5 separate regions of the Homo sapiens genome follow, and all the other regions are reported to be linked to region 5. The links are microRNA targets in miRTarBase. Many come from high-throughput screens and were not tested one by one. Region 5 holds a microRNA gene; each other region holds the end of a gene's coding sequence.

The links. The annotated mature microRNA hsa-miR-6810-3p reads UCCCCUGCUCCCUUGUUCCCCAG and lies in region 5 at 1,518-1,540, opposite strand. An mRNA with a match to its seed (bases 2 to 7 or 8) in the 3' UTR can be bound and repressed. Matches are read on the target gene's strand: a 7mer-m8 pairs with bases 2 to 8, a 7mer-A1 pairs with bases 2 to 7 and ends in A, and an 8mer does both.
Region 1: the mRNA of ZNF268 is a reported target of hsa-miR-6810-3p. The part of its 3' UTR that is shown has no 7-base or 8-base seed match.
Region 2: the mRNA of UBD is a reported target of hsa-miR-6810-3p. Seed matches in the 3' UTR shown: 7mer-m8 at 353-359.
Region 3: miRTarBase lists OPRL1 as a target of hsa-miR-6810-3p. Seed matches in the 3' UTR shown: 7mer-A1 at 2,008-2,014.
Region 4: the mRNA of NKX6-3 is a reported target of hsa-miR-6810-3p. Seed matches in the 3' UTR shown: 8mer at 4,199-4,206.

The regions. Positions count from the first base shown.
Region 1 is chr12:133,203,682-133,208,782 of GRCh38, forward strand. ZNF268 (zinc finger protein 268) reads left to right here. Exons shown (of 6, transcript NM_003415.3): 6 at 1-5,101. The coding sequence ends at 849. Among named protein-coding and RNA genes, the nearest start is that of ZNF268, 25 kb to the left of the region's middle.
Region 2 is chr6:29,551,109-29,556,209 of GRCh38, reverse strand. UBD (ubiquitin like modifier D) reads left to right here. Exons shown (of 2, transcript NM_006398.4): 2 at 1-695. The coding sequence ends at 330. It overlaps OR2I1 (olfactory receptor family 2 subfamily I member 1 (gene/pseudogene)), which reads right to left. Exons shown (of 2, transcript NM_001396058.1): 2 at 1-2,985. The coding sequence ends at 2,044. Among named protein-coding and RNA genes, the nearest start is that of OR2I1, 3.3 kb to the right of the region's middle.
Region 3 is chr20:64,098,124-64,103,224 of GRCh38, forward strand. OPRL1 (opioid related nociceptin receptor 1) reads left to right here. Exons shown (of 5, transcript NM_182647.4): 4 at 1-34; 5 at 153-2,510. The coding sequence ends at 676. Among named protein-coding and RNA genes, the nearest start is that of NPBWR2, 6.9 kb to the right of the region's middle. RefSeq lists an enhancer at 3,307-3,808.
Region 4 is chr8:41,642,096-41,647,196 of GRCh38, forward strand. NKX6-3 (NK6 homeobox 3) reads right to left here. Exons shown (of 3, transcript NM_001364841.2): 3 at 3,082-4,599. The coding sequence ends at 4,354. Among named protein-coding and RNA genes, the nearest start is that of NKX6-3, 6.2 kb to the right of the region's middle. RefSeq lists an enhancer at 3,091-3,150 and a silencer at 4,465-4,694.
Region 5 is chr2:218,338,397-218,343,497 of GRCh38, reverse strand. It overlaps MIR6810 (microRNA 6810), which reads right to left and starts at 1,587; the gene lies at 1,518-1,587. PNKD (PNKD metallo-beta-lactamase domain containing) reads right to left here. Exons shown (of 10, transcript NM_015488.5): 3 at 3,600-3,715; 4 at 3,357-3,469; 5 at 2,712-2,770; 6 at 1,872-1,964; 7 at 1,354-1,517. All of the region lies in intron 2 of CATIP-AS2 (CATIP antisense RNA 2), which reads left to right.

The sequences.
Region 1 (5,101 bases), not on the chromosome of region 5:
AAACCCTATGGATGCAGTCAATGTGCAAAAACCTTTAGTTTGAAGTCCCAGCTCATTGTACATCAGAGAAGTCACACAGGAGTAAAACCATATGGATGCAGTGAGTGTGGGAAAGCCTTCAGGAGCAAGTCATACCTTATTATACATATGAGAACTCATACAGGAGAGAAACCACATGAGTGCAGGGAATGCGGGAAATCCTTTAGTTTCAATTCACAACTCATTGTGCATCAGAGAATTCACACAGGAGAAAATCCCTATGAATGCAGTGAATGTGGGAAAGCCTTTAATAGGAAAGACCAGCTCATTTCACATCAGCGAACTCATGCAGGGGAAAAGCCTTATGGGTGCAGTGAATGTGGGAAAGCTTTTAGCAGCAAGTCATACCTAATTATACACATGAGAACTCATTCAGGTGAAAAACCATATGAATGTAATGAATGTGGGAAAGCCTTCATTTGGAAATCACTACTCATTGTACATGAGCGAACTCATGCAGGGGTCAACCCTTATAAATGCAGTCAATGTGAGAAATCCTTCAGTGGGAAATTACGCCTTCTTGTACACCAGAGAATGCACACAAGAGAGAAACCATATGAATGCAGTGAGTGTGGAAAAGCCTTCATTAGGAATTCTCAACTCATTGTACATCAAAGAACTCATTCAGGAGAGAAACCCTATGGGTGCAATGAATGTGGGAAAACCTTCTCTCAAAAATCAATTCTCAGTGCACATCAGAGAACACATACAGGAGAGAAGCCTTGTAAGTGCACTGAATGTGGGAAAGCCTTTTGTTGGAAGTCACAGCTCATTATGCATCAGAGAACTCATGTAGATGACAAACATTGATAATTTTACGAAACTCTGAAAAGTGGATTCACAAGAGATAGAAACAATCATATATAAAGAGAAACTCTGTAAGTGGAATCATCTTGTCATCTTCCAGAAAACTCATACTGAATAGAAACTTTATGAATGCACAGCATATGGAAAGGCATCCACAGAAAGCTGTTCTTTACATGCAAAAAGATAGTAGACAATACACAGGAAAACTGAATTTAGTAACCACTCTGAAAATTTTTAGCAGCAAGTCATACCTTTTTTTAAAAAGTTCATACAGGTGAGGAACCATGTTAAACGTTGTAAAGTCATTTTACTAAAATAAGATTCACAAAGAGGAAACTTCATGAACCAGATGAATATAGAATAGACTTCTTTGAAATTCATAGTTTACAGAATTTTAATGAGAGAAATTATTGAGCTAATGAATGGCAGAATTAACAAAATTACAAACATTTTATGTATCGGAAGCATATACCTTGGAGGGACCATGCTATAAGGGAAAGTGTAAATCTAGAAATGAGAAACCCCTAGGGAAAAAATATATATAGGAGTGAACATCTTATGAATGTACCAAATAAACCACAGCTGGACTGTTAACCTCACCTTAGAAGCTTCATTCTAAAAAAAAAAAAAAAAAAAAAAAAAAAAACCAACCTGTTATTATATCTTAATATTAATTTTGAAGAATTATTTCTTTTAGGAATCATTTTAAGAAATTTTATTCCAGGTGTTCCAAAATTTCAGGAAAAGGTTTGAGAAAATTCTCAATTATAAATAATAAGATACAGATTATTTCATTGTACAAGTGAATCTAGTAAGGAGGTTAAGAATAAGAAATAACATCCCAGAGCCTACAGGGATATTTAGATATCTTCCTATGTGTACTACATAATATGAATTTTGCAGTTTGGCATTTTACTTGCGAATGCCATATGTGAGACAAAAATCATCTTCCAGAGATTTCAGTATCTCTGATACTGACAATATCTCTGATATGACAATATCATCTTCCAGAGATTTCTACTCTGCATACCAACATTGTTTCTTTGTGTCTTACCAAATGCAACTTGTTACTAGAATATGACTTACTAAAAATGCATTTCCACACTGCAAACATTTTTTAGGGCTATCTTCTGCCCTTTGGAAGCAGTCTTGGCAGCAACCTCTTTAGTAATCAATATAAGGCACACTTCATGTGTTTGTGTAGCCTGGAATCTATTCTACCTTCACAGGTTAGAACATCTTGATTTCCTCTTAACGAAACATTCCCTAACGGTGTATGTAGTCATGAGGGAACCACCATTCAAGATGCCCTGCTCAGGACTTGGCATGAGCACTATGGTCAGCTGAGGCTCAGAACTGTACATTGTTAATGGGTTTTTCAAGTTCAGAAAAGCAACATGAGCTTTTGTTCTGTGGTAGCATGTTGATGTAATAAGTAGCTATTTCAATAGAGGTTCCCAGAACAGCTTTTGTTACTGTCATTTTCTTAACTTTGTTCACTTGTCTTTTATTTTGAGCTATTGGGTGTGCTTTTAATACATTCCTTGTTTGATTGCATTAGCCATTGTGTATCTTTTGCATACAGCTTACTAAATCAGATGGCTTCAGAAATGGGTGGTAGAGGAGTAGGCAGAAACTTGCAAGGATATGTGGATATTTGGAAATGGTTGTTTCCCAAGACAGGATGGAAGTCTTTTAAGCAAGAAACTTGGCCCATGCTATGAAGTCATGAAATGAATTGTTGGCATCATGTGCTCACTGAGGCTTTGGGGAAATGGATAAGTTGTCATTGAAAAATTTTAAACAGAATTCTGGAGTGGTCAAGAGGGGAATGCTTTTGATACCCATGTATAACATGGAGAATAATGATCTTAAAACTTCAATTTAAGATTATGTGTCAGTGATACTACTTAGTTACATGTAGCTATAGAGTCACAGTGGTGAAAAACTCTGCCAGTTGCTTACTCACAAAGTTAGTTTTCTTCACTACCTCATCAGGTTTGTTATGTGAGTGGGCATTAATCTGGGAAGAGTGGGACCCTGCCAGTTAGATTAGGGCTATCTTGGAGGAATATGCGGATTCAATACTGCAAATATTTCTGAAACACCTTCTGCTTTGTACTCTATTAGATACCCAAAGAAATTTTCATCCTTGAAGCGGAGGAATTTAATGATACCTGAATGCCTAACTGTTGTATTCTGCTTATACAGAATCCAATCTCAAGATACTTGGGGTGAAGAATGATGATTCACAGAAGGGAAGGGACATCTTACATAAACAAATAATCGCAGATACTTGCTAAAGTGTATCCCCCAATCTGGGAAATACTGTAAAGGTGTATATTATTATTGATGTACCAAAGAAGACAGAATAAATTCATAAGAGAAAGTTTATATTCAGTTTACTACTACCTAGGGTTAGATTTTAGTTTGTTGTTTTTTCAGATGCAAATCTACATGCAGCCTTGCCTGGTAGAAGCCAGAAGTGTTGACAGTATTGAGGACAGCACTCACATACTGTGGGAAAGAATAATACTTGATTAGGACTTATTATTTAATGAAATGAAAATTTTACAAAACAGAAATTGAGTTACTGGTTTGTAAATCTATCTAGTCCTTCTACCCCAGCCCCAGAAAAGAAAGACATTCCAGAGACTTTTCAGGAATAGTTATTATAAGGAAAATCCAAGGAAAAATAACCCCAATATTTTACAACTTCCCCATCAAATAGAAATTTAGGAGAAAAAATGACTTGCAAACCATATTTGTGAACATAGGTTTAAAAATCCATATTTGTGAACATAGGTTTAAAAATCCATATTTGTGAACATAGGTTTAAAAATTCTAAATGGAATTATAGCAAACCAATGTATAGCTAACAAGAAAGTCATGATATTAGGTTTAACAGACTATTAGTGGATCCAGCATCCTTTGTTCATTACCAGCAGAATCACTATTATTTATAATGGCAGTATGCCCACTTAAAAAGAGATATATGGGGCCAGGCACGGTGGCTCACACCTATAATCCCAGCACTTCAGGAGGCTGAGATGGTGGATCACCTGAGGTCAGGAGTTTGAGACCAGCCTGGCCAACATGGTGAAACCCCTCTCTACTAAAAATACAAAAAAATAGCAGGGCATGGTAACTGACACCTATAATCCCAGCTACTTGGGAGGCTGGGACGGGAGAATCACTTGAATCTAGGAGGCGGAAGTTGCAGTGAGCTGAGATCGTACCACTGTACTCCACCCTGGGTGACAGAACTAGACCCTGTCTCAAAAAACAGAAGAGTATGTTTGGAAGATTTAATATTAGAAAATATTTTAATTAACTACCAGATAAAACTCATAAGGATTATCTCAGTATATGCTGATAAATCACTTGATGGAATTTAACACCCATAGATGACACTAAAATACTATTAAGTTGGGAATTAAAATTAACTCCTGTAACTTGGTAGGGAATATATGTTCTGAAAACACAAATGTCATACTTAATGATAAAATAGTAGAAAGATTCCTTTAAAGTAAAATTAGCCAGGTGCAGTGGCTCATCCATGTAATACCAGCACTTGGGAAGGCTGAGGCTGGAGGATTGCTGGAACCCAGGAGTTCGAGACAAGCCTGACCAATATAGGGAGACCCTGTCTGTACAAAAACTTTTTAAAAAGATTAGCCAGGTGTGGTCAGGCGCCGTGGCTCATGCCTGTAATCCCAGCACTTTGGGAGGCCGAGGTGGGCAGATCACTTGAGGTCAGGATTTCAAGACCAGTGTGGCTAACATGGTGAAACCCCGTCTCTACTAAAAATACAAAAGTCAGCCAGGTGTGGTGGCACGTGCCTGTAATCCCATCTACTCGGGAGGCTGAGGCAGAAGAATTGCTTGAACCTAGGAGGTGGCAGTTGCAGTGAGCCAAGATTGCACCACTGCACTCCAGGCTGGGCGACAGAACAAGCCTCCATCTCAAAAAAAAGATCAGCCAGGTGTAGTGGCAAGTGCCGGTAGTCCCACCTACTGAGGAGGCTGAGGCAGGAGGTTAGCTTGAGTCCAGTAGTTCAAGGCTACAGTGAGCTATGATCATGCCCCTGCACTCCATCCTGGGCAACAAAGTGAGACCCTGTCTGTAAAAAACAAAGCAAAATTACAAGAATGCGCATCACTTTTATGAAATGAGTAACATCTAGCCAAGGTGTGAAAACAAGGAATGTGAGGAATTAGGGATGGGTGCAGAAACAACTGCCATGAATTGGAG
Region 2 (5,101 bases), not on the chromosome of region 5:
TTAAAGCCACGGAGAAGCCTCTCATCTTATGGCATTGACAAAGAGAAGACCATCCACCTTACCCTGAAAGTGGTGAAGCCCAGTGATGAGGAGCTGCCCTTGTTTCTTGTGGAGTCAGGTGATGAGGCAAAGAGGCACCTCCTCCAGGTGCGAAGGTCCAGCTCAGTGGCACAAGTGAAAGCAATGATCGAGACTAAGACGGGTATAATCCCTGAGACCCAGATTGTGACTTGCAATGGAAAGAGACTGGAAGATGGGAAGATGATGGCAGATTACGGCATCAGAAAGGGCAACTTACTCTTCCTGGCATGTTATTGTATTGGAGGGTGACCACCCTGGGCATGGGGTGTTGGCAGGGGTCAAAAAGCTTATTTCTTTTAATCTCTTACTCAACGAACACATCTTCTGATGATTTCCCAAAATTAATGAGAATGAGATGAGTAGAGTAAGATTTGGGTGGGATGGGTAGGATGAAGTATATTGCCCAACTCTATGTTTCTTTGATTCTAACACAATTAATTAAGTGACATGATTTTTACTAATGTATTACTGAGACTAGTAAATAAATTTTTAAGGCAAAATAGAGCATTCAAAGCCAGCTTGGAATTTAATTCTGTCTTGATACCTTGTTATTTATGCAAAAACTCCTATCTCCTTTCCTTTATGACAAGAGAGTAAGTTTTAGGTTGGGATCCATGTTCTACTGATTTCTGTATTTCTGTCTTTGTTAAGTCCAGTGCTTTATTTATATCACTCAATAATGGTTGAACCAAATTGAATTTCTACTTATAGAGCATAGTGAAATGATATTTTATAAAATGAATTAGTTGCTCTGACATGATCACAATCAAATTACTAAACATTTTAGAAACTAAATTAAACTCCTTCCCCCCTCTTCTCCTTTAAAGCTATTTGTATGAAATGAAGTCTGGCACCATGCCCCCTTTTATTCTCTATGTCTCACACCCAACTAAAATAGTTATTATTTCTGGGGATGATGGTGGGCAAGGAAAGGTATTTTCCACAGGGATCTAGCAATTCTGTTTAACTAGTGGGGATTCCTAGGGGTAGATGGACATTGGGAGCGAACAAACTTTCTAAAGCTGGGGGACTGTGGACCACCCTCTCTCCTACCTGCCTTAGGGTCTAGCAGGTCTTCTCCAGGATGAGGGCGCCAGTCTGGGTGAGGGTGGGTGAGGAGCTGGCTTCTGGGTTGACCTCAATATTCTGCTCAGGTTCTGCTGATTGAGCATTTTCCTCTCTTCTTTTTTTCATGAGGAGATCCCTGTTCCTGTCTTGAGAACTTGAGTCCCTTCCTCCATCTTCCTCCCTCCATTTACTCCTCTCTCTGACTCTCTCTCTTGCTCTCTCTCTCATGACTCACTACTGATCACCTGTGAGTTTTTTTCACGGGCTGAGACGTGCCCGCCTTCTTCCACACTCATCCTAGTTCCTTGTTTCTTTAAAACTTGCTCAAGAACCAACTCCTGCAGGGGGGTTTCCAGTCTTAACCCCACTCAGCAAAATTCACCACCATTTATGGGCTTTCCTCATCACATTTATGGGTGAAATGCCCCGGGGAGGGCACTGGTCATCTGGCCAGGTCTGCACTAAGTTGGACTGATTTCTGAGAATAGAGTCCATGGTCGCTTTTTCTGGATGTACCCTCTCCTGCAGGGTAGGGACTATGATTTTCTTGTCAACTTGAGACTTCTGATTGCAGAGACCAAGAGGTCTTCCATGGTCTTCCATCAGATAGGGAGGAAGCTAAAGGCGAGCATCACGTCCATCATTTTCCCTGCGCGTGGAGTTGTGAGGGGTAGGTTTTCCTTCCCTAAACCTGAGTATATAGAGGATTTAGGGATTTTCCCTCAAGAACTAAACATTTCCTCACGGGAGGAAAACATATCCCCCATTGGACTCCTTAGGACAAATCTTGCAGATTATCATACAAAAATGAACAGCCTGAAGTCTAAACTGACTCACTAAGGGGTATTTCCATCCTTGGGTTCTGGCTTAATACTTTCTCCCCTCCCCAACTACTCACTGCCCAGCCTGGCCTCTCCCCAGACTCCGCAGCAGCCTCCTCGCTGCCCCCTTCACTTTCTTATTCCTGAGGGTGTAGATGAGCGGGTTGAGAGCAGGTGTGACCACGGTGTAGAAGAGCGATACGAACTTGCCCCGTGCCTGGTTGTAGCGCTGCGCGGGCTGCAGGTAGGTGTAGATGGCCGAGCCGTAGAACAGGCAGACGGCTGTCAGGTGGGACCCACACGTGCCCACCGCCCTCCTCCGGCCTCCGCTGAACCGCATGCAACAGACAGCTCGGGCCACGGCACCGTAGGAGGCCAGGATGACGGCAAACGGCAGCAGCAGGATGACCACGCGGGCGGCGAACATCTGGTTCTCGGTAGTGTCTCCGTCGCCTCCGCAGGCCAGCTTGAGCAACGCCGGCAGCTCACAGATGAAGTGGTCCAGCAGGCGGGGCGCGCACAGCGGCCGCTCAGCCAGGAGCGCGGTTTGCGCAACCGAGTTGGTGAGGCCGCTTAGCCAGGAGGCGCTGGCCAGCGTGCGACATAGGCGCGGGGAGACGAGCCCCGCATAGCGCAGCGGGCGGCACACTGCGGCCGCGCGGTCCAGAGCCATCACCGCCAGGAGGACGCATTCGGCGGAACCCAGAGCCAGCGATGCGCACAGCTGGGCCGTGCAGTGGCTGCGCGGCAGCCAGAGCGCTGGTCCGCGCAGGTTGGCCAGCAGCGGCGGCACCACGCTAGTAGTGAAGCCCGCGTCTACCAAGGCCAGGTGGCAGAGGAAGTAGTACATGGGCGTGTGCAGGCGCGGGTCGCGCACCGCCAGCAGCACCAGCGCCGAGTTGCCCGTCAAGGTCAGGAGGTAGCACAGGAGGACAAGGGCGAAGAGGACCGGCTGCAGGGAAGGCCAGTCGGAGAAACCCAGCAGGAGAAAGCGCTCCTCTGCGCTGTAGTTGGCCTAAAGGAGGAAAACTCCCAGAATGTTTGGAAGGTCGAAATAAAAAAGGGTGACTACCCCTTATAAGCAAAGGGAAAACCTTGGAGTGTGGGGCTGGGCTGGGAGAAGGAATGGAATCATATACAAGGTCAGTTTGTGGATTGTAATCCCATTTACAGATGAGATTACTTAAAAATAAACTCCCTAAGAATAAGAGCAACACTCCAAGCTTGGCCTGGCCAACACTCGGTAGGCAGAATGATCACCTCCGTTGTTTCAGGTACTCTGTGTTTATTTATGCAACAGTTCATGTAAAATGGAGACGAGGCCAGAAGAATCCTTGAGCAGACAGAGCCAGTTGGGCCTCCTAAGTGACCTTAACCTTGCTTGATTTGCAAGCATGTCTGAAACTTTATTTGTGGTATTTCTTGTAAATGCCTATGTTAAAGAAACACAGAACTTAAGCTCAACCAATCAGAAGCAGCCAACAAAAACGTAATTAGTAACTAGGACTTCCTCATGGGATAGACCAAATAAGGCAACTGTATAACTGTGTAACTGTATAACTGTAACCAATGAAATATTATCTTTGCTTTTATCTATTTGTCCTAAAAAGCCTCCTCCTCATGTTCTCTCTGGGGAGCTCCCTAGCCACTTCTGGATCACTGCTCAAATAAACTCTTAAATATTTTATTGGGCCTTAGTTTACTTTCTAACACAACCCATTATACGGCTGATTACTGATTTTTAATTTGTTGTGAATAGAGACTACTCCCAACGTCCATGCCCCTCCCACTGAGGGGAGATCAGCACACGTATACTAGCCTTTAAATCAGGAATAAGTTGGGTAGAAAAAAAGAACACTTTCTGGTAGACTAGAATATCAGGACATCTTGGTTTTACCTACATAGCTCCCTTTAGCCAGTTATATGATATGGGGAAATCTTCATTTCCCTCTGTCTCAATTTTTTCATATGTAAATCAAGGAGTTTGAACTAGATGTCATCTAAGTTTCCTGTCCCAAATCCTTGGCTTTACTATCAAATATTAATCCAAAAATAAAATAAAAAGAGAACCCCAGGGAACAAAAGGAACCTCATTCTCCAAGGGTCTTGTTGAACCAAGTGTCTTAATGGTACAGAAACATATGGGTTATGTAATGGATGAAAGTTTACGTGATGGACAGAAATCTTTCTGCTGCATGACTCCTGACATAAATTATTATATGGATAACTTATTTTTCACATCATATTCACTGCTGTAAATTACAAAATCACAATAACCTAATTTTTCATTTTTCAGAGGGAAAAAACACTGCTCCCTACCAAAACATCCTGTTTGATTTTATGTTTCACTCATTTTATCCTCACTGGGCAGAATAAGCATTAATGTCATAATTAAGAACCAGGGCTCAGCAGCCAGACTGCCTGGGTTTGAGTCCTGGCTCTGCCATTTTCTAGCTGGAAAACCTTGGGTATGTTACTTAGCCTCTCTCTGCCTCAGTTTCCTCATATGAAAATAGAAATATGTTAAGTGGGCTAAATATGAAAAGCTGTTAGAACAAGGCCTGGCACATAGCAGTTGTTAACTGTCATCCTTTAATAAATGCTAACTATCGTCATATCTGTTTCCCAAATTAAGAAACAGGTTTTTAAGGGGTTCTTATGCTAGGCAGTGATACAACTGCTATGAACATTTACAGCTCTTTTCATTTATTAACTCTAATCTTAACTCACTTGAATATTAGGCAATAGCCTTATTTTATAGAGTATGTTAGGAGAGTAACTGAAGTTAAATTACTTGCCCAAGGCCACATTATTTGTAAATGCTTAATAGGTTTTCCACTTATATTTGACTAACTTCGAGGTCCTTCCTGTTTGATCAACCAGGATCCACTGTGCTAGAGACTGTGGAGTATGAAAGGACATGCAAAGTCTTACCTATATTTATAGATCATTTTATAATTTGGGGTCATATCAGAGATGAATAAAGTAGGAGAGGTGACATTCAGGCTTACAGACCAATGGTGGCTAGAGATGTTGAGTTACAAAAGGTCAAATTCTTTAATGCGGTGATTACACGGACACATAACTGTTCAGCCTGGCAAGCTCTAAACCATTCCTCTTCAAATATGCCA
Region 3 (5,101 bases), not on the chromosome of region 5:
GCCATCATGGGCTCGGCACAGGTCGAGGATGAAGGTCAGTGGGGTGTCCCCTCCTCCCCTCACCAGGCTCCCTGGCTCCCGGGTGGCTCCTCTGGGCCCACGTGCCCTCCACGTCTCCTGGGCCCACTCTGACCCCGTTTCTCTCCCTGCAGAGATCGAGTGCCTGGTGGAGATCCCTACCCCTCAGGATTACTGGGGCCCGGTGTTTGCCATCTGCATCTTCCTCTTCTCCTTCATCGTCCCCGTGCTCGTCATCTCTGTCTGCTACAGCCTCATGATCCGGCGGCTCCGTGGAGTCCGCCTGCTCTCGGGCTCCCGAGAGAAGGACCGGAACCTGCGGCGCATCACTCGGCTGGTGCTGGTGGTAGTGGCTGTGTTCGTGGGCTGCTGGACGCCTGTCCAGGTCTTCGTGCTGGCCCAAGGGCTGGGGGTTCAGCCGAGCAGCGAGACTGCCGTGGCCATTCTGCGCTTCTGCACGGCCCTGGGCTACGTCAACAGCTGCCTCAACCCCATCCTCTACGCCTTCCTGGATGAGAACTTCAAGGCCTGCTTCCGCAAGTTCTGCTGTGCATCTGCCCTGCGCCGGGACGTGCAGGTGTCTGACCGCGTGCGCAGCATTGCCAAGGACGTGGCCCTGGCCTGCAAGACCTCTGAGACGGTACCGCGGCCCGCATGACTAGGCGTGGACCTGCCCATGGTGCCTGTCAGCCCGCAGAGCCCATCTACGCCCAACACAGAGCTCACACAGGTCACTGCTCTCTAGGCGGACACACCCTGGGCCCTGAGCATCCAGAGCCTGGGATGGGCTTTTCCCTGTGGGCCAGGGATGCTCGGTCCCAGAGGAGGACCTAGTGACATCATGGGACAGGTCAAAGCATTAGGGCCACCTCCATGGCCCCAGACAGACTAAAGCTGCCCTCCTGGTGCAGGGCCGAGGGGACACAAGGACCTACCTGGAAGCAGCTGACATGCTGGTGGACGGCCGTGACTGGAGCCCGTGCCCCTCCCTCCCCGTGCTTCATGTGACTCTTGGCCTCTCTGCTGCTGCGTTGGCAGAACCCTGGGTGGGCAGGCACCCGGAGGAGGAGCAGCAGCTGTGTCATCCTGTGCCCCCCATGTGCTGTGTGCTGTTTGCATGGCAGGGCTCCAGCTGCCTTCAGCCCTGTGACGTCTCCTCAGGGCAGCTGGACAGGCTTGGCACTGCCCGGGAAGTGCAGCAGGCAGCTTTTCTTTGGGGTGGGACTTGCCCTGAGCTTGGAGCTGCCACCTGGAGGACTTGCCTGTTCCGACTCCACCTGTGCAGCCGGGGCCACCCCAGGAGAAAGTGTCCAGGTGGGGGCTGGCAGTCCCTGGCTGCAGACCCCGAGCTGGCCCTGGGCCAGCCGCACCTCTGAAGGTTTTCTGTGTGCTGCACGGTGCAGGCCTCATCCCTGACTGCAGCTTGACTCTGGGCCCAACCCCCATTTCCCTTCAGGAGACCAGCGAGAGGCCCTGGCCCATTCCCTCCAGCGGTGCAATGAACTATCATGCTGTGGACCGTCAACCCAGCCCTGCTTCTCAGTGTGGGGCAGGTGTCTCAGGACGAAGGCGCCGCGTGACCACATGGGCAGCTCTGTTCACAAAGTGGAGGCCTCGTTTTCCTGGTCTTGACTGCTCTGTTTGGGTGGGAGAAGATTCTCTGGGGGTCCCCACATCCTCCCAAGGCTCCCCTCACAGCCTCTCCTTTGCTTGAAGCCAGAGGTCAGTGGCCGTGCTGTGTTGCGGGGGAAGCTGTGTGGAAGGAGAAGCTGGTGGCCACAGCAGAGTCCTGCTCTGGGGACGCCTGCTTCATTTACAAGCCTCAAGATGGCTCTGTGTAGGGCCTGAGCTTGCTGCCCAACGGGAGGATGGCTTCACAGCAGAGCCAGCATGAGGGGTGGGGCCTGGCAGGGCTTGCTTGAGCCAAACTGCAAAGGCTGTGGTGGCTGTGAGGACACTGCGGGGGTTGGGGGGGGGGCGTCTGTACCTCAGGGGATGCCCCGCTGTGGTCACCCAGAGAATCACCCTTCCTGGTCTACAGATGGAAGCTGCAGGTTGGTGACTTTGCAAATGCACTTCCTACAGATGAACTATTAAAAGACCTGCAACATTGAAAAAACTCATTTTTTCCACCAAAACCTTGGCCAGGTAACCTACCTTAGGCACCTGCAAAGAACAGGAAGTGATGGCTGTCTCGCAACAGAGCCTGGGCTGCTCCTCCTGCTCTGGGGAGTCTAGGCCGTGGGGACTGTTCTGGGGAGGCTCATGCTGTCTCCATGACGTCTGTGGCAGGAGTCCCTGAGGACGGGAGCTGCCTAGCTACAGTTTTCTTGCCAAGGCGAGGTGTTTTGTGAATCTGTGCTGATGTAATGTGCACCTTCACGTATTTATGCATGTGGCAAGCGTTACTTCCTGTGCACGTAGCCAGCCCTGGGTCTGTCTCTGGGGTAATGAAAAAGGACCCTAATAAACACCTGCTCACTGGCTGGGTATTCTTTGTAACCAGTGTTTCTGGCTCCTGCCACCTGGGGATTTGCTTCTGGAGTGACTTTTCTGGGATTGGCACGTGGGTGGGAGGAGGCTATGGGTTTAGGCTGAATTCTTGTACCTGTCCTGTGCTGCTCAACAGGCTGGGCTCTGCCCTCAGTGAAACGTCCCCCAGGAGGCTGCAACCCTGGGGAGAGTTGAAGCCAGTTAATGGTGTGTTGGCCGGGCTGTTACCTTTTCTTCAGCACACACGGTTTCTCTCTAAACAACCGATGGCTGCACCTCTCCCCTGCCCCCTGGAAAGAGAGGTTTCCTGAGGATACAGTGGGAGGGTGCTGCTCCCACCCAGGTTGCAGGGTTTTCTTACCCCCATTTCATCTCAGAAGAACCCCTGCTCCTGCTCATTTCCCCTTCCTTGAGCAGATCTGAGGGGAGTTTTGGTGAAGGATGAGCAGACGGCCTCCTCTAGGGCTGGGTACACTCTTGCCATGGACATCTGCCTCCTGGTTCCTGTTTGGCCCAGTTCAGCCCAGGCCGACCTGCAAAACAGAGCAGCTTTGGAGGGTGGGCACGGGCACACTCCAGTCCAAGTACTCGTCTCCAGGGCATGGGCAGATGGGCAAGTTCTGTAGGATTTTCTGTAGGTTTGAATGACAGACACTGTCTTATCCTGGACTGCTATAGCAAAGTACCATAGACTCAGTGGCAATAGAGACATCAGATGTTTATTTCTCATGGTTCTGGAGGCTGGAGATCTGAGATCAGGTGCAGGCACGGTCAGGTTCCGGGGAAGACCCGCTCCCAGGCTGCAGAGGGCCATCTTCTCACTATGTCATGACATGGGTTTGACAGCTGGAGAGCGTGCCTTTCCTAAAGGCACTCATCCCATTCAGGAGGGCTCTGCCGTCATGACCTGTCATCTCCCAAAGGCCCCCCTCTCCTGATACCATCAGCTTGGGGGGCTGAGATTTCAAAATGCAAATTTTGGAGGAACACAAATAGTTCATAACAAACACATTGCCATCAAAGCAAAAATATAGCATCAAGGGACAATTTGGGAGGGAGAGGCTGCACCGGGGCAGTTACTGTGCCCTTGGGCCCGGGAGATGGTATGGTCTTGGTAGAGGAGGCTCACACATGGTGCGGACTGTCCTGTCTTCGGGTGGGTGTGGATCCAGGGCTAAGCCCACAGCTAGTGTCTTCCAGAAGGAGCTGGCCAGACAGGGGCCAAGGGCCGTAGGAGGAGTTGGGGGGCGTTGGAAGCTGACTAGCTCCCTTGCCCTCCAGGACTGGGTTCCACCCCGGCCCACTCCACCCCTCCTCTGACCGCACCCTGGGTCTCCTCTCCAGCCCCCGGCTCCCCCAGCCCACCTCTGCTGTCGGGCTTGGTCAAGTCGCCTGGCTTTTCTGAGCCTCGGTTTCCTTCCGTGTGCAAAGGGGACCGCAGAACCCTCTTTGTGGGGTTGTGGGGGAAGGCTGGGGCGCCCGGGAGGGTCCCGGGTCGCGTCCGACCTCAGGAAGGCGGGGCTTCAGCAGCGGCCTCGGACCCTCCCTCCAGGGGGCGCTGTGGGCTCACGCGGGCCCAGCCTTGGGCCCCGGGGCGCTGCGGCGGGAACCGCGGTGACTAGCGGGGTCTTAAAGCGGGTGGCGGGGCCGGGCTCTCCTGGGACCAGGAGCCCAGAGCGTGGAGACGTGGCGGGCTGAGCCGCTCAGTGCGGCCCCTGCCCCGCGCCCACCCCGCCCCGTGTCAGGAGGTCCGCGGAGCGGGAGGACCCGCCTCCCGGGGAGAGCTCGCCCGCCCCTCCCTCCCGGCTGGCCGCGGGGCGGTCTGCAGACCCTTTGGCCGTGCCGGATCTGCCTGGTCCCCGGGGAGAAGACGCTGAGGATCCCATTGCTGGTCTGTGGATGGGGACAGGAGACGCCCGAGGTAAGAAGGGGTCCGGGTTCTTTGGAGGAATCCTGGTTGGCGCCTTCTCTGCAGCAGAGACGCCCGGCTGGGGCCGGAGGGCAAACTGGGGGCAGGGTGGGAGACCTCGGCCCTGAGGGCTGTAGGGGCTCTTGCCTGGGCGCTCCTTAAGCTCCCCCGCCCCCTCCGCCCCCCACCCCGCGGTGCTCACTCTCAGTCCTGCCTTGCGCACATTCCCACGCCCGGGCCTCTCCTGCCCGCCCCTCGTTGTTCACTTGCTCATTACGCCTCACACCTGGCTCTGCCGCGGGCTTGGAGCGGGTGTCTGGGAAACACAGTCTCACTTGTCTCCTCAAGGGGCTCCGGGGCACCGTAACAGCGTGCAGAGCGCAGTCAGGCTGCCGTGCTGCTGCTTTGCGAGGTGTGACTGCAGCGCAGCCAGGAAACAAATCCAGGGACAGCTTGTTCTTCCTGCGGTGTCGGTGTTGGTGGTGGCTTAAAAATTGCCCACAGACTGGGCTCATGCCTGTAATCCCAGCACTTTGGGAGGCTGAGGCAGGAGGATCACTTGAGCCCAGGAGTTTGAGACCAGCCTGGGCAACATAGTGAGACCCCGTCTTTCAAAAAAAAGAAAAATTTGCCTGGCGTGGTGGCGCACGCATGTAGTCCCAGCTACTCCAGAGCCTGATG
Region 4 (5,101 bases), not on the chromosome of region 5:
GTTTTGACATGTAAATTTTGGAGGGGACACTGACACTCACATCAAAGCCTTCTCTGAATAATACAGGGCTACTGTTTACTGTCTGTGTATGCCAGGCACATGCATTAGTTCTAATCTCACAGAAACCCTGCAAGGTGTGTGGAATTATTCCTATTTTATAGATGAGTAAACCGAGGCTCAGAGGTTAAGTAACTGGCCCAATGATACAGAGAGTGGTGGAGCTATGGTTTGAGCCCATATCTAACTGACTCCTTTCCCCTAACCCATGCTGCGGGGACAGCTGGTTTCTGGGGTCAAAACCTAGGGGTGGCCCGAGGATGAGGAGGGGTTACCAGAAGTGGGACTTCAGCCCTTTGTCACCTTTCTTTTGCCCAGGCTGGAGTGCAGTGGAGTCATCTCGGCTCACTGCAACCTCCGCCTCCTGGGTTCAAGTGATTCTTCTACCTCAGCCTCCCCAGTAGCTGGGATTACAGGCACCTGCCATCACGCCCAGCTAATTTTTGTATTTTTAGTAGAGACGAGGTTTCACCATGTTGCCCAGGCTAGGCTCCAACTCCTGATCTCAGCTGATCCGCCCACTTTGGCCCCCCAAAGTGCTGGGATTATAGGCATGAGCCACTACACCCGGCCTCTTTGTCTACTTTCTGATTGTTACCATCAGGATATGGCCACTGTGAGCCTGGTAAGGCATGGACATCCACCCACCCTCGCCCCGACCTGCTGAAGACATATCCCAGGTCCTGCTAATAGCAGAAGCCACAAAGGTGACAGCTATGGCAGAATCCGTCCCTACTTGGTGGAGCCCATGGAGCCACCTGTCAGAGCAGACACCACAGCTGTCATGGACGTGGGACTTAATTTCTTTCCTTTTGTCTCTGAAAAGTTTGTGATGTGGTAAGAGAGGAGCTGCAGGGAGCATGCATTTCCAAAGTTCTTTTGCTTTTTGTATGTTTGTTCATTTAACCCAGAATATACAATAAGTTCTATTTATGAGCAGGGATAAAAGTGGGGCCTATAGTTTATGATTTTTTTTTCTTTTTCTTTCTTTCTTTCTTTCTTTCTTTCTTTCTTTTTTTTTTTTTTTTTTTTTTGAGACAGTCTCACTCTGTCACCCAGGCTGGAGTGCAGTGGCATGATCTCAGCTCACTGCAACCTCCACCTCCCGGGTTCAAGCAATTCTCCCACCTCAACCTCCTGAGTATCTGGGACTACAAGCCCTCACCACCACGCCCAGCTAATTTTTGTACTTTTAGTAGAGACAGGGTTTCACCATTTCTCACCATGTTGGCCAGGCTGGTCTCGAACTCCTGGCCTCAAGTGATCCACCCACTTCGGCCTCCCAAAGTGCTGGGATTACAGGTGTGAGCCACCACGCCTGGCTGGCTTATGATTTCTTTATGATGGATGAAGTGAGATAGCCTTGTGTTCTCCCAAGTAACACACACATGTATGCACACACAGGCATGCACATGCATTCACATGTGTGTGCATCTGCAGAGGGCCAGACTTATCTTGAATGACCCTTGGGAATCTGGGTCTTCCACATATGAGTTTTCTCCTCCTTTGAACTCCAAATCTAGTCTTTTGAATATGCTTCAGCATGATTGTTAGGGAAATGGGGGGCAGTGCCTCTCCTGTGCTTGGCCCTATGTTCAGTCTGCACATGGAAGGTGGTGTGGGATTAGAGGAAATGGCCCAGAAGGCTGTAGTCTTTTAGCTAAAGGTTCCAGTGGCAGGTATCCCAGAACTTTGAGGTCAAAGGAGGTTTTGTTTAGCTCAGCAAATATCTCCTGGGAAAAACTTTCCCCAGGCTTGATTTCATACTGACCTCAAATGACTTGAATCAGACATGCAGGAATTATAGCTACAACAGAGCAGTTAAGATTACAGCATGCTTCAGAAAAAGATAAGTAAACACAGTTTTTATGTCACTTGCATCTTCCTCCATACCTGCTTGGTGACTTTGCACCTGGGCTATGTGATAGCCTTTTCCTGCCTGCAGCACTCAGGAATCACAAGCCTCCCAGAACCACAGAAACTTTTTATCTTTGAAGTCTGTGCTGAATTCTAGGGTCCTCTCCTGCTGCAGCCACTGTAGGACCCATTCAGGACACTTGTGACAGAGCACGGCTTCTCAGTGTGCACACAGAGATTGTGCTCCATTCCCTTCTTTTCTCCTTTCTGCTTTTCAAGGGAAAAGACTGACACCTGAGCATAGGCATCTTCACAGATGGAGGGTGGAAATTTATACACATTCTGCATTTTCTGGTCATGTTCCTCTCTGTCCTCTGGGTCCTCTAAGGGTCTTAGGAAAGGTGGGTGCCCTACTTTCTGAGATGCTCCTAGCTAGGGTCTTCCTCCACCCTCATCCCCTCTCGGGCTGGTTCCAGGGCCAGGTTCACCCATCCTGGGGGTCTGGGGGTCCAAGGATGGACTTCTTGGGAGAGCAAAGGGGTCAAGCCTAGTTGCTAGTTGCACAGATTGTTGAAGTTGGAAGGGCCTTAAACTACTTTTGGTTCTAGCCTCTCATTTGACAGAAAAGGCTTCGAAGGGTGCCCTTCACAACCCAAGGAAGTGGCTGAAAGGGCCTTGGGATCTACTCTGAGGTTGCCTCGTCCCACTTCTGTGACTTGGTTTAGGAACTTTCTGAGCTTTGGTTTTCTCCTCCATGCATTGAAGATGATACCTACTGCCTAGTTTTCTTGTGGGGTCAGTGATAATCCAGACATTCTACAGGGGAGAAATTAGCAGGTGTTCTGTTAAACTTAGCTCTTCTAGTCTCTCCCTTCTTATTTTTCTTATGATACCCAATTCTCCACATAGATCATCTTCCCCACTAGGCTATAAATTCCTGGAGATCAGGGACCCCATAAAATTCACCTTGGGTTTCTCAGCACCTGGGGACAGTGTCTGGCATCTACCAGTGAGGTTTCAAATAACTTGTATTGTGCAACCTGTCAGAGCACGAATGTCCCCAGGAGACTAGACAACGGCCCTCGGGGAAGGCCCCACAGCTGGCAAGTCTGGGACCTCACAGCCAGTTTCCTGCCGTTGGTCCCTTTCACAGAAGCACAGGAGCCGTAAGGTTCATGGGACTTTTATTTTTACTGTTTATTTTTTGAAAGCCAGTGAGGATGGGCAAGTGCTTGGTCCCTTCTGGGCTGCATTCCTATCTAAGACCAGCCCTCACCCGCCTCCCCCAGCCCACCCCCTACCTGCCAGCAGCTCAGATCACCCGGGTGAAAAATACCACCCTGTTGGCCAGCGTCCCTGTCAGCACCAGCTCCAGTGCCAGGCCGCAAGGCGATCTGAGGAAAGGAAGGGCCGTGATTCCCAGCAGGCCGTGGTTCAGCCCCTTCCTGGCATCCTCCACCCAGCCGGAGGGGCTGTCCTTCTCCCTTCCTGCCTTGTTGGAGGGGTGCCGTTCTGGGGTCTTTCCCAGCCCTTCCTTTCCTCCCCAGGTGGGATGCTTTTTCTCTCTGGGTGGGCCTGTCCTTATATCAGCACCAAATGATGCCCAGGTGGGTGGCCCTTGGGCACACCGTCCCCGCCTCCCCTCTCCCTGCACCCTCCCCTTTTCCCCGGCTGTCAGGATGAGGAGGGCACAGCGGTCTCAGAGGTATTGACCCTGAGGGTAAATCGGAGAAAGGAGGCCAGGGGGATTTCCGCAGCTCAGGGGCCGTCATCCTGCAGTGTCAGGGGCATTTTTTCTCCACTGGGATGTCCCACTTCCCCTCCTGGAGGCAGATTTCCTGCAGCCTGGGTTAGGTGCTCAGCTCTGGCCCCTCCAGTGGGACCCTTCCTGTGCACAGGTCTGAGGAGTGCACCTGGCCACTCACCTGTCTTTTCTTCTGCAGCCAGCAGCTGGCTTGGGGCCCAAGACTCTGGACTTCTGACTCCCCAGCCAGCTGCCTCCCTCCCTGGGAAGTCCTGCCCACTCCCCCCGCCCCAACAGCTGGATCACAGTGGCATGTCTGGGACCCCACAGCCAGTTTCTTGGCTGCAGAGCCTGGTCATTTTAGTCCTCTGTCCACTTGTGAATCTGCAGAACTGGCAGGCGAGGCCCGAGGAGGTGCAAGGGGCAGCGGCTTCCAGGTCTCAGGAGTGCTGTGCCTCCCTCCTGGCCTCCTCCTCCCTTAGCTAGGATGCCTGTCCCCTTTCCCTCCTTTTCCTCCTCCTCCCCCGCCTCCCCTCCTCCTCCCCTGCACCTGCTGCTCCTCCTCCACGCGCCCCTCATCCAAAGAAAGACTCAGTCCCTGCGCCCCCAGGAGCGTGGGGAAGGGGAGGGGAAGGTAGGCTCCTCGGCGTCCCCCCGCAGGCTGCAGCCAGGATCCCGGGCCTGGACGGCGGGCGTCAGACGCTGTGCGCTCCCAGGCTGAGCACCGAGAAGGCGGCGCGGTGCTTGCGCAGCAGCAGGCGGATCTTCTCGTCGTCCGAGTCGGGGTCCAGCGGCTTGTTGTACTCGTCGTCCTCGTTCTCCGAGGGTGCGCGGTCCCCGCCTGCGCCTGCACCCGCGCCGCCCGGGGCCCGGGGCGTGGAGGACGAGGGCTCCAGGGCGCTCTTCTTCCGCCACTTGGTCCTGCGGTTCTGGAACCACACCTGCGATGAGAAAGAATGTGAAGGGCACAGGGGCACAGCGCGCACGGGACGCGAGAACAGCCATCCTGCTTTTACAGCTAAACAAATGGCTCAACAACGGAGTGACTGTCACATTCACGTTTCTGTTGGGGAAGGACAATAAAATTTAAAAACGTGAGCGCGGCAGCCCTCCCCTCCGCCCCCCGCCCCCACCATTTGCTTCCTCTTCCACCGCCGCCTCCTCCCCCTCTCCCTCCCCCTCCCCCTCCCCTCCCCCTCCCCCTCCCCCTCCTCCTCCTTCTCCTCCTCCTCCTCCTCCTCCACCTGGGAACTCGGTGGAAGATGCGGAGTGCGCGGGTGGAAGGCTTAGCCCCGGTGCTCATTGGAAGGTGCTTATGAGCAGTCCCTACTCTGGGCTTCATAGACCCTCACCCTACTTCATAAATAATTGTTCCCCTAGTTAGTTAGAAAAGTAACGTAGGTCCATTGCTTGGGATAGTTGAAGAGGGCAGGAACGCACCCC
Region 5 (5,101 bases):
GGGTGGGGGTTGGAGGGTATGTCACAAGGTGCCAGGATAACACAATATGGCATAAGGCACACCCAGACAGGTGGGAACCAGCTTGTAATGCTCTGGCTGGCCGTCAGCCCTGACTGTGCACTTTCCAGACCCACCCCAGGCATCTATTCCCTCCTCACTGGGAACTGGGCCCAACTGGTCACCCCCTGACCAAGCCCATCCGAGGCCTCCGTTGCACACAGTGACACCTGAAGGGAGGGGCTGTGGAATCTTCGGGCTGCAGGCCCCAGGCTTGGTAGACGCAGGGCTGCTCTTTCCCACGGAACACTTCTTCGCCTAGGCTGCCCTTTGGGATTTCATGCAGCCTGGGACTTGTGATCCTCACCCACCCACTCACCTAGCTGTTCTTAACTTTTCATAACCTAGTCCTGCCAGTCACTGTATCAGAGAACCAGTCTCCACCCAGGGGAAACTAATTCCCTGCAGGGCTTTACTCAGCTACAGACATTCTCCCATTCTGTCCCGCAGCTGGCAGAAGTCTTTTTTATTTTTGAGACAGAGTCTCATTGTTGCCCAGGCTGCAGTGCAGTGGCACAATCATAGCTCACTGCAACCTTGAATTCCTGGGCTCACCACCACACTGGCTAATTTTTGTATTTTTTGTAGAGACGGGGTTTCACCATGTTGCCCAAGCTGGTCTTGAACTCCTGGGCTCAAGCAATCCACTTGCTTTGGCCTCCCAGAGTTCTGGGATTACAGGCCTGAGTCACTGCTCCTGGCCTATATTATTTATATTATTTAAATTTTTTTTTCTGTTTTGTGACAGAGTCTCACTCTGTCTTCCAGGTTGGAGTGCAGTGGCGCGATCTCAGCTCGCTGCAACCTCTACCTCTCGGGTTCAAGCAGTTCTCCTGTCTCAGCCTCCCTAGTAGCTGGGATTACAGGCATGCACCACCATGCCCGGCTAATTTCTGTATTTTTAGTAGAGACGGGGTTTCACCATGTTGACCAGGCTGGTCTTGAACTCCTGACCTCAGGTGATCCTCCCACCTCAGCCTCCCAAAGTGCTGGGATTACAGGCATGAGCCACCACGCCTGGCCTATTTTAAAATTTTTTTGTAGAGACAGTCTTGCTATTTTGCCCAGTCTGGTCTCCAACTCCTAGCCTCAAGTGATCCTCCTGCCTCAGCCTCCCAAGGTGCCCCAAGGGAAGTCTCAAGGATTAAAACCAATCTGAGTAACACAGATGGAAGTAACTGCCACGGCAACATCTGTGCTAAAACTAAGGCTTCAGTGCTCTCCATGGGACTGTGGCTGCCCTGGCTTCTGTCTCTCCCTCCTCTCCCAGCTCCTCTCTCTTTCGGGGAAACTCACCACAGCCAGAGAGGAAGAGCAGGTCCCCTGAGAAGAGGCAGGAGGGACCCTTGTAGGGCTCCCCATCCAGTAGGTAGACCAGATGGCCTTGTGTGTGGCCAGGTGTAGCCAGGGCCCGGATCTGAAGCCGTCCCACGCTGACCACATCTTGATGACACAGGGGACTGGGGAACAAGGGAGCAGGGGACAGAAGGTATTGGATCTGTGCCATGCTGATCCCTGTCCCCATCCCAGGCCCAAGGGGCTGGGTGATTCACAAGAGAGTGGGCTTCCATACAAAAGAAGTCACCCCAGTGCCTCGGGTCTCAGGTCCGAACCCTCCCCCTTTCCTCTTTTGGGGACTATGGCTGGATCAGTTGGGGGATGGGCAGTGCCAGTCTTCAGATAGGCTGGGATTGGGCCAGGAAGGGCACTGGCAAAGATCCACCTGCTGATACCCCTGAAACACTTCACTGAAGGCTGGGGGTGGGGGAAAGGGCCCATGGAAGGGCCATCCCTTGCCTAGGTCAGGGACTTACTGGGTGAGGTAGGGGATGCCGTCCTGAGGGCTCCCGTACACCCGACAGTCCCGGTGCCGCCGGCTGAGGTCACGGTTCCCTCCACTGTGGTCCCTGCAGGACAGCAGAGACAGGCAGGGGGCTTCGAGGGGCAACTGTACCTAAGCCCCCTTCTTTACCACAGCATCTCCAGGCCTTTAAGTGCTGGGGCTGTGGCTTCTGGACTAAGCCAAGTTGTCCACACCTCTAGGCCTTTGTTCAAGCTGTTCCCTTGCCCAGAACATCGCCCCCAACAACTCAAGCTGGCCAATGCCAGCCGAGCTTCCTGAACCCTCAGCTCAGGTCATCATCTTTCAATTCTCCAAGTGGATCTGATCACACCGTGCCTGGGCCTCCCATCCCTGTTCCCTGTGCCAACTGTTACCTAAATATCACATACTTCTTTTTTGAAGACAAGGTCTCACTATGTTGCCCAGGTTGGGCTTGAACTCCCAACCCTCTTGCCTCCGCTGTTATATACTTTGATACAGGGCTACCTCCCCTATTGGTCTTAGAATTTCCTTGATGGAAGAGTCATAACTTTTGTCCATGCCCAGTGTGCAGTAGGTATCTAATACATGCCCATGAAATGAAAGAGAAATGACTGCCCTGCCCTCTGGGGCTTCAGAAGCTTGATCAATGGAGTGGTGGGAGACTGTCCCCTCTCCTCCCTCCCTGCTGGTGTCCAGGTGACTTCACGAGGAAGGCGGGTGCCGGCCCGTACTGACTTCTTGATCTCTGGCCCCGGCCGTCCTCAATGGGCCCAGTCCTGGCAAGCCCAGCTGGGACAAGGGTGGGCCAGGGAAGACGGGAGCCCCTTACCAGTGCTTGTGAGTACACAGAATGGCGACCAAGGTGACCCCTTCCTTTTCAATGGAAGCCTGCGAGAGAGAGGAGGTTTGGAGACTGGGGAGCAGGATGCAAGAGGCACTTGAAGCAGCAAGAGCCAGGAGTGTGGGCGCTGGTGGAGAGGAGAGGAGAGCATGGAGAGATGAAGCAGAGGAAAGGGATGGAGCTGGAGGGGAGAGATCCAGGAATGTGAAGCACGGGGCACATGGAGGCAGAGGGACACTTGTACATAGAGAGAGGCAGACACAGAGAGATAAGGAATGGGAGGGAAAGACAGAGAGACCCAGATACTGACAGACAGAGGTGACAGAAAGAAAGGGGGTCTGAAGGGGGCCAATGGGAGTGAAAGCCAGCCTGGAAACTCACTAGACCCAGAGTCCTGGGCCAACACCCCCAGCCCTCTGGCTCTGCATCCCCCACTCCTGCTCTCCCCTTCTGCCCAGCCATGCCCTGTACCCCCCTTCCCCAGGCTATGTGTGCGCATGTGCACGTGTGAACATGGAGCATATGGGACACATCCCACGGGCAGACGGACAAGGGTCAGCCCTCTCTAGCAAGGCGAAACTGCCAGTCCCCAAGGTGACTCCAGGCACCCCCTGCTCCCTGCCCTCCCCTCACCTGCACAGCCCGAGGGTCTGAAGGGTCCACAGCCACAGCCAGCTGGGCCTGGGTGTCGATGATGAGGTAGCTGTAGTTGTCCGAGAGGACAGGGATGGGAAGCACCTTCACTCCTGGGGACAGAGATGGGCTGTGGGCGGGGTAACAGGCAGGGAGCCCAGGGGCTGGGGTATGTGAAGGGGAGCAGGCGGGGAGGGTGGGGGCACAGAATGGGGGATGCTGGCCGGGGCAGTCAGAGCTCACCATTGAAGAGGCGGGGCTGGGTTTTCGAGTGGCCTTTAGGGTAGCGATTCCGAGCCCTGCGCAGCTGCTGTCGGTAGAAGAGGTACCCGAGCCAGGTGCGGGTGTACAGGCTGTACCTAGAGGGCGAGTGGGTGGCCTATGATTAGCCTTTTCTCCCTAGCTCCCCTAGACTCCTTCGTGATGCCTGCAGGCCCCACATCTCCATTCCTTTGGTGACCCTGTGAGCCAATGCAATTCCACTCTCACTTATTATGTGCCTACTGTTTGCCCTGCTTAGCACTCAGGACAAGATGGAGAATGAGACGGACACACCTAGAACTCAAAATCTATCAGGGAGACATGAACTGAGGAACTCACAGAAGAAAATTGGAGAGGCCAGGCGCAGTGGCTCACACCTGTAATCCCAGAACTTTGGGAGGCCGAGGTGGGCGGATCACCTGAGGTCAGGAGTTCGAGACCAGCCTGACTAACATGGCGAAACCCTGTCTCTACTAAAAATACAAAACTTAGTCGGGTGTGGTGGCACACGCTTGTAGTCCCAGCTACTCAGGAGGCTGAGGCAGGAGAATTGGGCATCGCACCACTGCACTGCAGCCCAGGCCAAAGAGTGAGACTCTGTCTAAAAAAAAAGAGAGACTTGGAGAGTGAGGGGTTTAATCTAGCCCAGGGTCTAGCACCTCTGATGAAGTGACATTTGCAGGGAAGAAGGAGTAGGAATTAGGAGGCTGAAATGAGGTAGAAAAAATATTTCAGAAAGAACAGTGGTGGTCAGACTTTAGCATGCATCCTAATCATCTGAAGAAGGTTGGGTACAGTGGCTCACACCTGTAATCCCAGCACCTTGGGAGGGAAGGAGAGAGGATCACTTGAGCCCAGGAGTTCGAGACCAGCCTGGGCAACATTGTGCCCTATAGGGTCTCTACACACACAAAAAAAAGAATAGCTGGGCGTGGTGGCACACGCCTGTGGTCCCAGCTACTCAGGTAGCTGAGGCAGGAGGATTGCTTGAGCCCGGGAGGGTGAAGCTGCAGTAAGCCATGATTGCACCACTGTACTCCAGCCTGGGTGACAAAACAAGACCCTGTCTCAAAAAAAAAAAAAAAAAAATCATCTGAGGCTGGGTGTGGTGTCTCACGCCTGTAATCCCAGCACTTTGGGAGGCCGAGGCAGGTGGATCATCTGAGGTCAGGAGTTCAAGACCAGCCTGACTAACATGGTGAAACCCCGTCTCTACTAAAAATACAAAAATTAGCCGGGTGTGGTGATGGGCACCTGTAATCCCAATTATCTTTTTTGTAGAGATGGGGTCTCAGTTTGTTGTCTAGGCTGGTCTCGAACTCCTGGGCTCAACAAATCCTCCTGCCTTGGCCTCCCAAAGTGTTAGGATTACAGGTGTGAGCCACCGTGTCCCACCTGAAATTCTTTTTTTTTTTTTTTTGAGACAGAGTCTCGCTCTGTTGCCCAGACTGGAGTGCAGTGGTGCAATCTCGGCTCACTGCAAC